Regions from separate parts of the Homo sapiens genome. Here region 1 is linked to region 2. The links come from fine-mapping of genetic effects on gene expression. A gene starts in region 2. The other region holds a variant in brackets. All regions are shown on one strand. Distances are between the middles of the regions.

Region 1 (5,385 bases), 730 kb after region 2:
AGCTACACACGGCCGGGTGCTGTGGCTCACACCTGTAATCGCAGCACTTTGGGATGCTGAGGCAGGTGGATCACCTGAGGTCAGGAGTTCGAAACCAGCCTAACCAACATGGTGAAACCCCATCTCCACTAAAAACACAAAAAATTAGCCGGGCGTGGTGACACGCGCCTGTAGTTCCAGCTACTCCGGAGGCTGAGGCAATAGAATGGTGTGAACCTGGGAGGCGGAGCTTGCAGTGAGCTGAGATCACACGACTGCACTCCAGCCTGGTGACAGAGCAAGACTCGGTCTCAAAAAAACCCAAACAAACAAAAAGAAGCTACATATTATATGATTCCAACTATATGGCATCCCGGAAAGGCAAAATTATGGAGATGGTAAAGAGATCAGTGATTGCTGGGGGCTGGGGAGAGGAAGAAATGAATACATGGAACACAGAGGGTTTCAGGGTCAGAAAAACTACTCCTTGTGTGATACTATAACGGTGGATACATGTCATTATGTATTTATCCAAACCAATAGAATGTACAACACCAAGAGTGAACTCTATTGTAAACTATAGACATTGGGTTATATCGTTGTGTGCTATGGTCTAAATGTTTATCCCCACCACCACTAAATTTATATGTTGAAATCCTAACCTTCAAGGTGATAGTGTTAGAAGATGGGACCTTTTCGAAGTGGAGCCCTCGTGATTGGGATTAACACCCTTATGACAGAGACCACAGAGGGCTGGCTAGTCCTTCTATACTGCCATGTGTGTACAGTAAAGAGATGATTGTCAATGAACCAAGAAGCGGGCCCTCAGCAGACACTAAATCTGCTGACACCTTGATTTTGACTTCCCAGTTTCCAAAACTATAAGAAATAAATTTCTTTTTTAATAAGCTACACAGTTTATGGTATTTTGTTATAGCAGCCTGAAGAGAGTAAAAGGATGTAGAAATATAGGTTCAGTAACCATAACAAAAGTACCACTCTGTGGAAGATGTTAGTAATGTGAGAGGCTATGAATGAGGTGGCGAGGAGGTGGTATATGGGAAATGTCACTTTGTTCTGTTCAGTTTTGCTGTGAATCTAAAACTGTTCTAATAGATAAAGTTGAATACAATATTAAAACAACAACATGTTACTGTCTTTGTAACTATTCAATGACATTTAGGCAGGGCAGAGGCTATTGGACATTATATATATCCTTAAAGTCTCCCTTTATATATATACACACAGATATAAATATATAAGTATAGATAAAGATGAAGCCTAAAAACCTAGTTTAATTATGTTAAATTTCATTAGGGAATATGTAATTTTACCTCTCGCTTTTATTATAATGGTCTTGACTTGAGCTGGCCATGCACATTTTCACCATGCTGAATTTAAAATTGGGCTACTTTATAGAGTTTTGAACAAAATGCTGATTCCCCTCAGACTCTTTACAACATTGCTCTGAATCATATGAATTGCCCTTAATCAATAAAGCAGCACTCATTTGACTGGCCCTGTAATGTGTAACCTTCTATTTCCAAATATGGTAAACATAGAGAAGCCATCTATGTGAGAAGGTTTGAGTAGGCTTTACTCCCATTTACCCTAGTATTGATTTCTATATATGGCAGGAAGGAGGAAAAGGGATGTTTTCATCCCTTCTCAGTTCCTATCCCTAAATTTTTATCTTACCAAGAACTCAAATGCTGTTTCCTTCTTTTTTTTTTTTTTTTTTTTGATGGAGTTTCGCTCTTGTCATTCAGGCTGGAGCGTAATGGTGCAATCTTGGCTCACTGCAACCTCCAAATCCTGGGTTCAAGCAATTCTCCAGCCTCAGCCTCCTGAGTAGCTGGGATTACAGGCACCCACCACCACACCCAGCTAATTTTTGTTTTTTCAGTACAGACGGGGTTTTGCCATGTTGGTCAGGTTGGCCTCGAACTCCTGACCTCAGGTGATTCACCCACCTCAGCTTCCCAAAGTGCTAGGATTATAGGTTTGAGCCACTGCAGCCAGCCAACTGTTTCTTTATGATTGAATGACAGCCATAACTAGGACAATTTACTTGGATGCTAACAGCTTGTGCAAAGATCTAGGAATGCAGATCTAGAAATATGAGGATTAGAGCCCTAATGACATGGGATAGGATGGACAGAGTCCAGAGCCAAACTTCTCCCAACTTAATGTATGTTAGTACAATCACTATGGAGAACAGTTTGGAGGTTCCTCAAAAAACTGAAAATTGAGCTAGCATATGATCAGGCAATCCCACTGCTGGGTATATATCCAAAGGAAAGGAAATTAGTATATTGAAAAGATACTTGCACTTCAATGTTTTCTGCAGCACTATTTATAATAGCTAAGCTTTGGAAGCAACCTAAGTGTCCATCAATAGATGGATGGATAAAAAAATGTGGTACATATGCACTGGAGATCATTATGTTAAGTGAAATAAGCCAGACACAGAAAGGCAAACATCATATGTTCTCACTTATTTGTGGGATCTAAAAATCATGAACTCACGGACATAGAGAGTAGAACGATGGTTACCAGG[G/C]GCTGGGAAAGGGGAGAGCTGGATGGGGCGGGGAGGTGGGAATAGCTAATGGGTACAAAAAAATAGAATGAATGAGACCTACTATTTGATAGCACAATAGAGTGACTATAGTGAATAATAACTTAATTGCACATTTTAAAAAAGAGTGTAATTGGACTGTTTGTAACTCAAAGGATAAATGCTTGAAGGAATGAACACCTCATTCTACACTATGTGCTTATTTCACATTGCGTGCCCATTTCCAAATATCTAATGTACCCCATAAATAATACCTAATATGTACCAACAGAAATTAAAATTATAGTAATAATAAAAAGAAAAAAAAGACTCATAACTCCCAAAACACCCAGATATGTTTGAAATATCCAATAAAGAGATGGAAGGGGCAGATAAGCTCTTCAATAAACATCACAAAATGACTCCATTCATTCATAAAGCAACCACAATGACAATCCAACTTCTGTAATTTGTTATATTTTCAAATCACAACTCAGGACCATTTTTCTTTCTTTCATGCTGTGATACAATACAGTGATTTTGTCCTCAAACAATAAAATGTAAAGCTAGCTTTACCTACATTTAGATAAATGTACTGACATAATGACTTCTTAACTTGCTATTTATTTCACACTAACAATTTAATAACAATGAAAGAGATATTTTTAATTAATATTAAATAAATACATAACCTTATAGACTATGTAAGGTTTTTATAGTTATTCTCATTTTTCCAGGAGCTGTTAACATTAAAAAGAAAATATAACAAAAGAAAACCCAGCCATTGAAGTCACAGGAACCTGGTTTTGAATTATGATGAATTTATCACTTTCCAACTCTTTCATATATGAAAATTTGTCCTTCTTATGAACGTACATTTAAATAATCTGTATGATAAAGATAACATAATAATATTACAATATTGTGTTAAGAATTCAATACATTTCTAGAATGTTAACTTTTTTTTTCCTTTCTAGTCATCTCATAGAGGGCTCAACAATCTGATTTTTCCCTGAATAATTTACCAATTATTATTTTAAATTTGGAGAAAAATGTAAGTGTTTATATGTAGTCTTTATATTAAGGGGTAGTATTTTATCATTTACCATAAATTAATGAACTTATTTCCTTAAAAGGATATTGTAAATCCTGATAAACTTAAGCACACTTTCTTAAAATTGAGAAGTCATGAGGTAGAGAATATGCCCATGAAATTACCTAAGACTGTACGTCTGAAACCAGGATTGTCAATGAAATTACATGTCTGGCTGAGAGTAATAGATGACTGGTGAGTGGTATTTCAGTTCTTTTCTGTATTCTACTGTTATCATAATGAACATTTGTTAGGTCTTTACACTTTATTTGGAATAAAATCAGCATGCTCATTCATGTCTCAGAAATTCTCTGTGGTGTCCCTTGGGGTGAAAGAGATAGAATTATGTGATATGTGTAAACAGGGATTAATCTAATCTTAGGCAAATCCACACTTTTCAATGTGAGTGAGGTTTGCAGAGGATTATAAATATGATGAAGTTAGATACAGTTTGACATCTTGTTTTTTTCGAGCGTTAATTTTTTAAAAGCTTTTCAAAAATTACTTATTAATTTTTGGTATGCAAAATCACACAGAAAAAAATCACTTGAACAACATGTCAAGTTTACTTTGAGTTGAGTGTTAAAAATGTCTCTTACCTATTGGAATGGGAATTAGGTTTGATGTGATTCTAAAAGGCATCTCTATCTTCTTTGCAAAATGGCAATTGTCTTGCCTAGAGACATATGTTGAAACAATCCACATAACTTGGGACATCTTGTTCATTTTGATTCTCAGCACTGTTCATCACTCGACTGCACACCATTTATTTGGTGGCAGCCTATGAACTCTAAAGTAAATGAGTCTGGTTGCAGGGGTGGAGGGGGTAGAATAGAGGAGAGAAGGCTAACATACATCATGTGGCTGGAAATTATATAATAGGAAATTACAAGCCATCACACTGAGGTTTAAGCTTTAGCTATTTCTGTATAAAAAAATAGTTTGGGGAGATTGGACTTTATCCAAAATCAATTTACAGCTATCAATTTAAAAAAAATCTTCACAGAGGGATATGGATTTGACACCTCTGTTAGAGCTAAACTTCTGAGACTATCAGGGATCAACACGTCAGTTTAATGAAGAATAAAAAAATCCAATCAATGCAACATCCAAGGTCAAGGTATGGGATGAAATAGAGTAAGTTGGGGTTTCCTTTCAGAAGGCTAATAGCAAAGTAGCGTTAACTCCTGGGATGTTGATAGGTATTAGAACCTGGATTATGTAAAAGAATAGGCCGGGCGCGGTGGCTCACGCCTGTAATCCCAGCACTTTGGGAGGCCGAGGCGGGTGGATCACGAGGTCAGGAGGTCGAGACCATCCTGGCTAATACGGTGAAACCCCGTCTCTACTAAAAATACAAAAAAAAAAATTAGCCGGGCGTGGTAGCGGGCGCCTGTAGTCCCAGCTACTCGGGAGGTTGAGGCAGGAGAATGGCATGAACCCGGGAGGTGGAGCTTGCAGTGAGCCAAGATAGCGCCACTGCAGTCCAGCCTGGGCGAAAGAGCGAGACTCCGTCTCAAAAAAAAAAAAAAAAAAAAAAAAAGAATAGATGATATAATTAAAACAATAGAAATCATATCTGTTTTCAATATCTAGGGTAGAAGAGTAAAAACATTTGAAGTTATTAAAGTATTGACTGGTCAAAGAGTAGAGGGAAAGGCCATAAAAGGTTATAGTTTCCCTAGAGCCATAAAATCAGAATAGAGAAATAGAGAAGCAACACTACATGTGCAGTATAAATGGATTCAGCTGTCCA
Region 2 (5,385 bases):
GGAAGGAACAAAGGAAACCTCTGTGGACAGATGACTGCAATCCGAAGGACCTCCCCTCCACTCCCTGCCATCATCACCCATTCATGGTCTGGTCTGGCATATGCTCTTGGAACTTTGACCCTGCTCGAGGGAATGAGGGAAGAACTTTACAAAAGAGTAAGGCCTTTAAAGAGAAATAAAATCAAGTGCAGATTCACGTTCTATGTTCTTCTCCTAGTCTCCTCAGTGTCTCAAAGGGCTGATCCCCGTAGGCTGTTTCCCTGGCTCCCATGGCAGGTGTATCAGACTTGGCCAATGCAAGGCACTGGAAGGAGATTGGAGGGCAGGAGAGGAGAACGTATAGTACATTTCCCCCTTCTCCCTCCCTAGATTGCTTCTTTGGCAGTGGTTGTTTCTCCTCTATGGCCGCAGCTCTCACCAGGCTGGCCATGCTGCCTGGGCCCTGGACTCCAATAACCCTGCCTCTTCTCTTATTTCTCCAGCTAGAGGTCGCAGTTGCTAGTTTCTGGATTACTGTGCCATCTCCTGATTAGCTTCTGACTTTTCCTATCACCTACGTTACCAATTTCTTGCATTCAATTACTTCTGTAGATACTCAAAATGGTTTCTGTTTTCCTGGTTAGACCCTGCTTGAAACAAATGAGTTTATAGAAAAGAAGGTAATGTGGTATTTCTTGCACACCTGTCTTTGTAGATTCTGTTTTACATCATTATGTTGTTATCAAATTCACCTATTCTGTTCTCTCAAGCTGGTTGTTTGCTAGCCGACATCATTTACATCAACGTAGTATAATATTTCCCAGGCAGCTGACATTTTAAAGTCATTTTAAAGGGATTTTCTGGAAAGGATGCCTTGAGGCAAAGACATAACTTACACAAGGAGTGTGTGAGATGGAGCTTCTGAGTCCCCAAATTCAGAAGGCCTTTCAGGGCTCTGGGTCTATTCTACATTTGGGCCTAACCCTTTATATGAATGCCATTTTTCTTTATAGGTTGAAGAGATCTTCCTAAAACACTAAAAAGCTCTGGGAAGGGATTCTGCATTAACTTGCACCTCTTATATGCCCCTCAGCCACGGCACTTGCAACCCACATCCAATCCGAGTGAAGACAATACCCAGTCAGTATCTCTAGGTGGCATAAACATATCCTTGATGGAGCCACACATAAAGCTATTATCAACCATTACTGCATGGTGAATTGGTTTATTAGGTGTTCTTTGTGACACTCAAGAACTGACTTAGGTTCTGATTGGGTGAAGATTCAGGGTTAGGATGGGAGCATAGAACACCACCCAGGGAGGGAGGCAATTTGGAGACAATGCCCTCAAGAGAGCTAGCCTTGAGCCTAATAAACTAAGAGGGGAACTTTATTGCTTTTGGCCAAAGCACACTGCCAAACTCTCAGCGCAAAGGGCAAGTACAAGACATTCTTCTGAAAAAGTTATAAGATTTCAGACAGGAAGAAATGAAATTAAGTCTCTTAATATAAAATATACAATGTTTTGGAGGTGGTTTTATGAGAATGATCATCAGGACAATACACTATTGTGTCAAACAGATTATAATCGGAAATAATTCTCGGTGTATTCTCCTAATGTACTGATGCAAAAAAAGTTTCTTCATTTATTTATTCATATTATGTTGTGCTAGCTTCTATATTTTTGAAATTACATGCAAATCTATGTCGGGAAAAAAAGTAACTGATGTTTTGTAAAATTGTTTAGGGAACATTCCTTAAAACTTATTCTTCCCTCTACCTTCCTTTACTTATTTTAGGGCACATAAGCAGTAGCATAAAATGGCTTATAGCTGAGCGGCCTCCGGGAGTGGTTCTGTTGGACTAGAGGTGTTTATATATTTTTTGCCTTTATATTATCAGGAACATATGTAGATTCTGGAACAAGTGTGAATCAAGACTCGTTTAAACTTATATTAATCTACTCCAGATTTATGTCTTTTATGTTAAGATAAAGCATTTTGTCTTTTAAAAAATAAAACTCTCTTGATTGGACACTGGTACCGAAATTTATAACACTTATAAACAATTTTGGGGTTCACCGACTGCGTACACATTCAGCCTTAGCCACTCAGTAGGCATATGACCTAAACTTTCTGCATTTTTAAAATGTGGATCATAATTGGTTACTTCCTCACAGAATGGTTATTGAGAGATGTAAATTTGGATATGCATGCCAGTAAATATTCTTATTGCTGAGCTTAACCAGTTCGGCAGAAATGTACATGAATTGAGAGAAGCAAATCTTCATCAAAGAAAATAATTTATTACAATAATAGACAAGATCAACATTTGTGCAAATTAAAAAATAGTTAATCCAATCAGAATCTGAATTTGAACTCCCCCCCCCGCCCCACCCCGCCACCTTCACTGGGTATTACGAGTTTTCGTAGACTGATCCTATAATTTTTAATTTCATGGCCTTCTAGTTTTCTGTACTTTTGCTTAGTGCTGAGCCCTTTAAGCAGAGACTCACAAGTGACAAATATCAGCACACCACTTAACTGAGGAAGCCGGAGTGTTCCCAGGTCCGCAAGTTGGAGCTCTTTAGTTGGAGTGCTGGGTTTAGACTAGAGAGCGGGTGTTGCGACTCCTCCTCCCCACCACCAGTCAACAACCCCGCCCACCCCCGCCAACTTCTTCTGGCCTCTTAGCGCCTTTCTGCAGCCAGCCGGCCCGCCCTTCCTCCGGGTGTCTGAGAGCTGGGCGCAGGAGGCGGGCTCAGCGCTGACGGGCTGCGCCTCTGCAGCCAGAGGGAGGAGGCGGGAAGGCGGGCGGAGGAGGAGGCGGAGGAGGAGGCGGAGGAGGGGGCGGGGACTAAGCAGGGCGGTAGCTGGCGCCGAGCGCGGTGGGAGAGGAGAGGGTACCCGGCTGGCTCGGCTGGCGGCCTCTGCCTGGATCTCGGCGCCGCAGTCCTGCGCCTCTCCCGCCCCTGTCTCCCGCTCCGCAGCCCCGGGCACGGCGGAGGCAGCGGAGCCCTGGGCCATCGGTAGGTTGCACGGGGACGACGGCTCCGTCTGTAACCTTTTGTGCTGCAGAAAAGGTGGTGGTTATGGGGGGCTTGGGGGAGTGGGTTTGCCCCAGGCTCCGATCCCCAGTGCCAGCCCTAATCGCGGCGCCGCCCCTTCCTCTCCGCCTCGTGTCTGGGCCGGGCGCACGATGCCCGCGGTGCTGGGGAAACCCGGCCGGACCAGCTTCTGCGATGGGCGGCGGGGCGGCCCCAGCGTCCCTTGGCCTTGGTGGACCGGTTCCCAGGCACCCGAAGGGGACTGGGGTCTGGTAAACTGGGTGGGGCCCGCGCGGGGTGCGGGGAGCTTGCGGTTCCCTGGCACAGGGGTGGGGCCGCAGACGCCGTGAGTGTGCAGCGCGTGTGAGTGTGCGGGGGCGTGCGCCCCCGTGTGCGCGCGTCGTGCGCTCGCTGGGGAGGTGCGGGGACTCGGCGACCCGGAGCGCCTCTCCCGCGGTGCCGCGGTGCGGAAGTCGGGGCGCGTTGGCGCGCACGCTCGCTCGCTCCCTCCCTTGGCCGCTGTTCCCGCACCGCGGGGCAGCGGGCCTGGAGGCCCCTTTGAGAAGTAGCTTTCCCCGGCCGGCGGCACCTTTGGCTGCGTGCCCGGCCGCGCTCAGGGTGCGACTGCCCGGGTCAGATAGCACCTCAGGGCGAGCCCCGGCGGTCTGATCTCGCCGACCCTCCTCGTCCTGGTTGCAACCCGCGTGCGAGGCCGCCCGCGCCCTCCGAGTGTCTGCCGGTGCAGTGGGGGTGGACTGGCCGGCTGTGGCCGTGTGTGCGCGTGTGGATTGGGGCCCGGTCCGAGCCAGAAGCTTAAGCGGCAGATGTCGGGCATTGCCACCCTCGCCCCACCTGTCGCGGGTGGACTTTGGGGCAGGTGGGAAGCGGAGGAGAGGGGTTTCGAGGCGGGTGGCAGTCAGACCTCCAGCAACGCGGCCCCATTGTGAAGCTGCCAAACTCTCTCTAGTGGTGGAATCTGCAGGTCTCCGCCAGAAAGGAGATGGGAACGCGAAGGGAATGATGGCCCCGTCCTTTTCCCCTTGCTAGTGTTCCACACGCTTAGGGACTCCCTGCCTCTCCTTCCACCTCAGTTTTCAACCCAGTGGGTTACTGATTTGGGTGGAACCAAGATTTCCGTGTGTGTGTGTGTGTGTGTGTGTGTTTGTGTGTGTGTGGTGCACAGGTAAAGCTGGAGCTGGGAACTTTTTATTTGAGCAGGAAGAATGGAGGCATTTTACAGTGTGCTTGCCGCTCCTAGCTGAAAGAACAATTCTTGCATATTTCTGATGTTACTAGACTCATTTTCCTTTTTTTTTTTTTTCCGAAGAGCCAACCTACAATTTAGGGTTGTTAGTTGTTTTATTTTCTCAAATCCTGTAATGCTGGATTGACACTATAGAGGTAGAAATGACCCTTTTGCAAAGTTTATTTTCCCAGTCATTTCAAAATATAGTATTGGTTATTACGGCAGAAGCTTTTGGCCGCGATTTATGATTACACTATTAAGTTTAATGAATGTGTCACAGAATCCTCAGTGTTTTAATTATGTAACTGTGAATGCATTATAAACTGAAAAGTAAAATGAACAGGATGGAATATAAGAGTTAATGAATACAGAGACCTGTTAATTTGATAATAATTGATGTATAGAATATGCTTTTGCTAACAGTTTATTTAATTGCAAATGAAAGTGTTAGTAATTATTTCAGTGTATAAGATATATTTATTGATATTATATAACAGTCAATGAATTTGCTTATTTTCTTTGTATATTTCTGTGTATTTTAGAGAGCTATTATAAAATTAACTCAAAAGTACTTAATATGGTTAGAGTAATAAAGCTTTATGTACAGGGTTTAAAATTTCTTTGCTGATTTGTAGCTGGGGGTGAGGTGGGGGATCAGCTCCTTTCCTCCAGAGAGAACTTTGATTTTGTCACCAGCCTATCAAAATGAGTACCTGGTTTTAAGCCTTCCCAAAGATTAGCCAATTCCACAGTGTACACCTGTTCCATTTTGATGATACTTCCTAAGAGACAAATTTCTTGTAAAGGCTGCATGTTGACCTTTAGTTCCACTTACTGTCGGTCATATTTGCAGTGAAACTGAGTATTTTTCTAAAAGTAGAAGGATGACACCACGTGATAAGAAGATATTAGTAACCTAGGTTTAATTTTTACTAGCAGAAATGGAAAGATAATGAGTGCTGCACTTTAAGGGGGTGGATTGCTATTAAAAGAACTGATACTAGAAAGAGAAACACATTTTTGTCTTACTGAACGAATTATGGGTTATCTTACAAAGTTGGCAAGGTTAATGGTTTGTTTGTAAGGTCAAGGATGGTTTCAGAAAAGTCACACCC

Evidence for each region. PIP is the estimated chance that this variant, and not a neighbour inherited with it, causes the effect. A credible set is the group of variants that fine-mapping cannot tell apart.
Region 1: its variant is the best candidate, but not a certain one, in a credible set for the expression of MACIR in fibroblasts (GTEx, PIP 0.90).

The regions. Positions count from the first base shown.
Region 1 is chr5:103,980,967-103,986,351 of GRCh38, forward strand. No RefSeq gene overlaps it. Among named protein-coding and RNA genes, the nearest start is that of NIHCOLE, 97 kb to the right of the region's middle. The variant G/C (reference allele first, on the strand shown) is at 2,540.
Region 2 is chr5:103,255,891-103,261,275 of GRCh38, forward strand. It overlaps MACIR (macrophage immunometabolism regulator), which reads left to right and starts at 2,873. Exons shown (of 3, transcript NM_033211.4): 1 at 2,873-3,006. RefSeq lists silencers at 2,534-3,043, 3,254-3,633.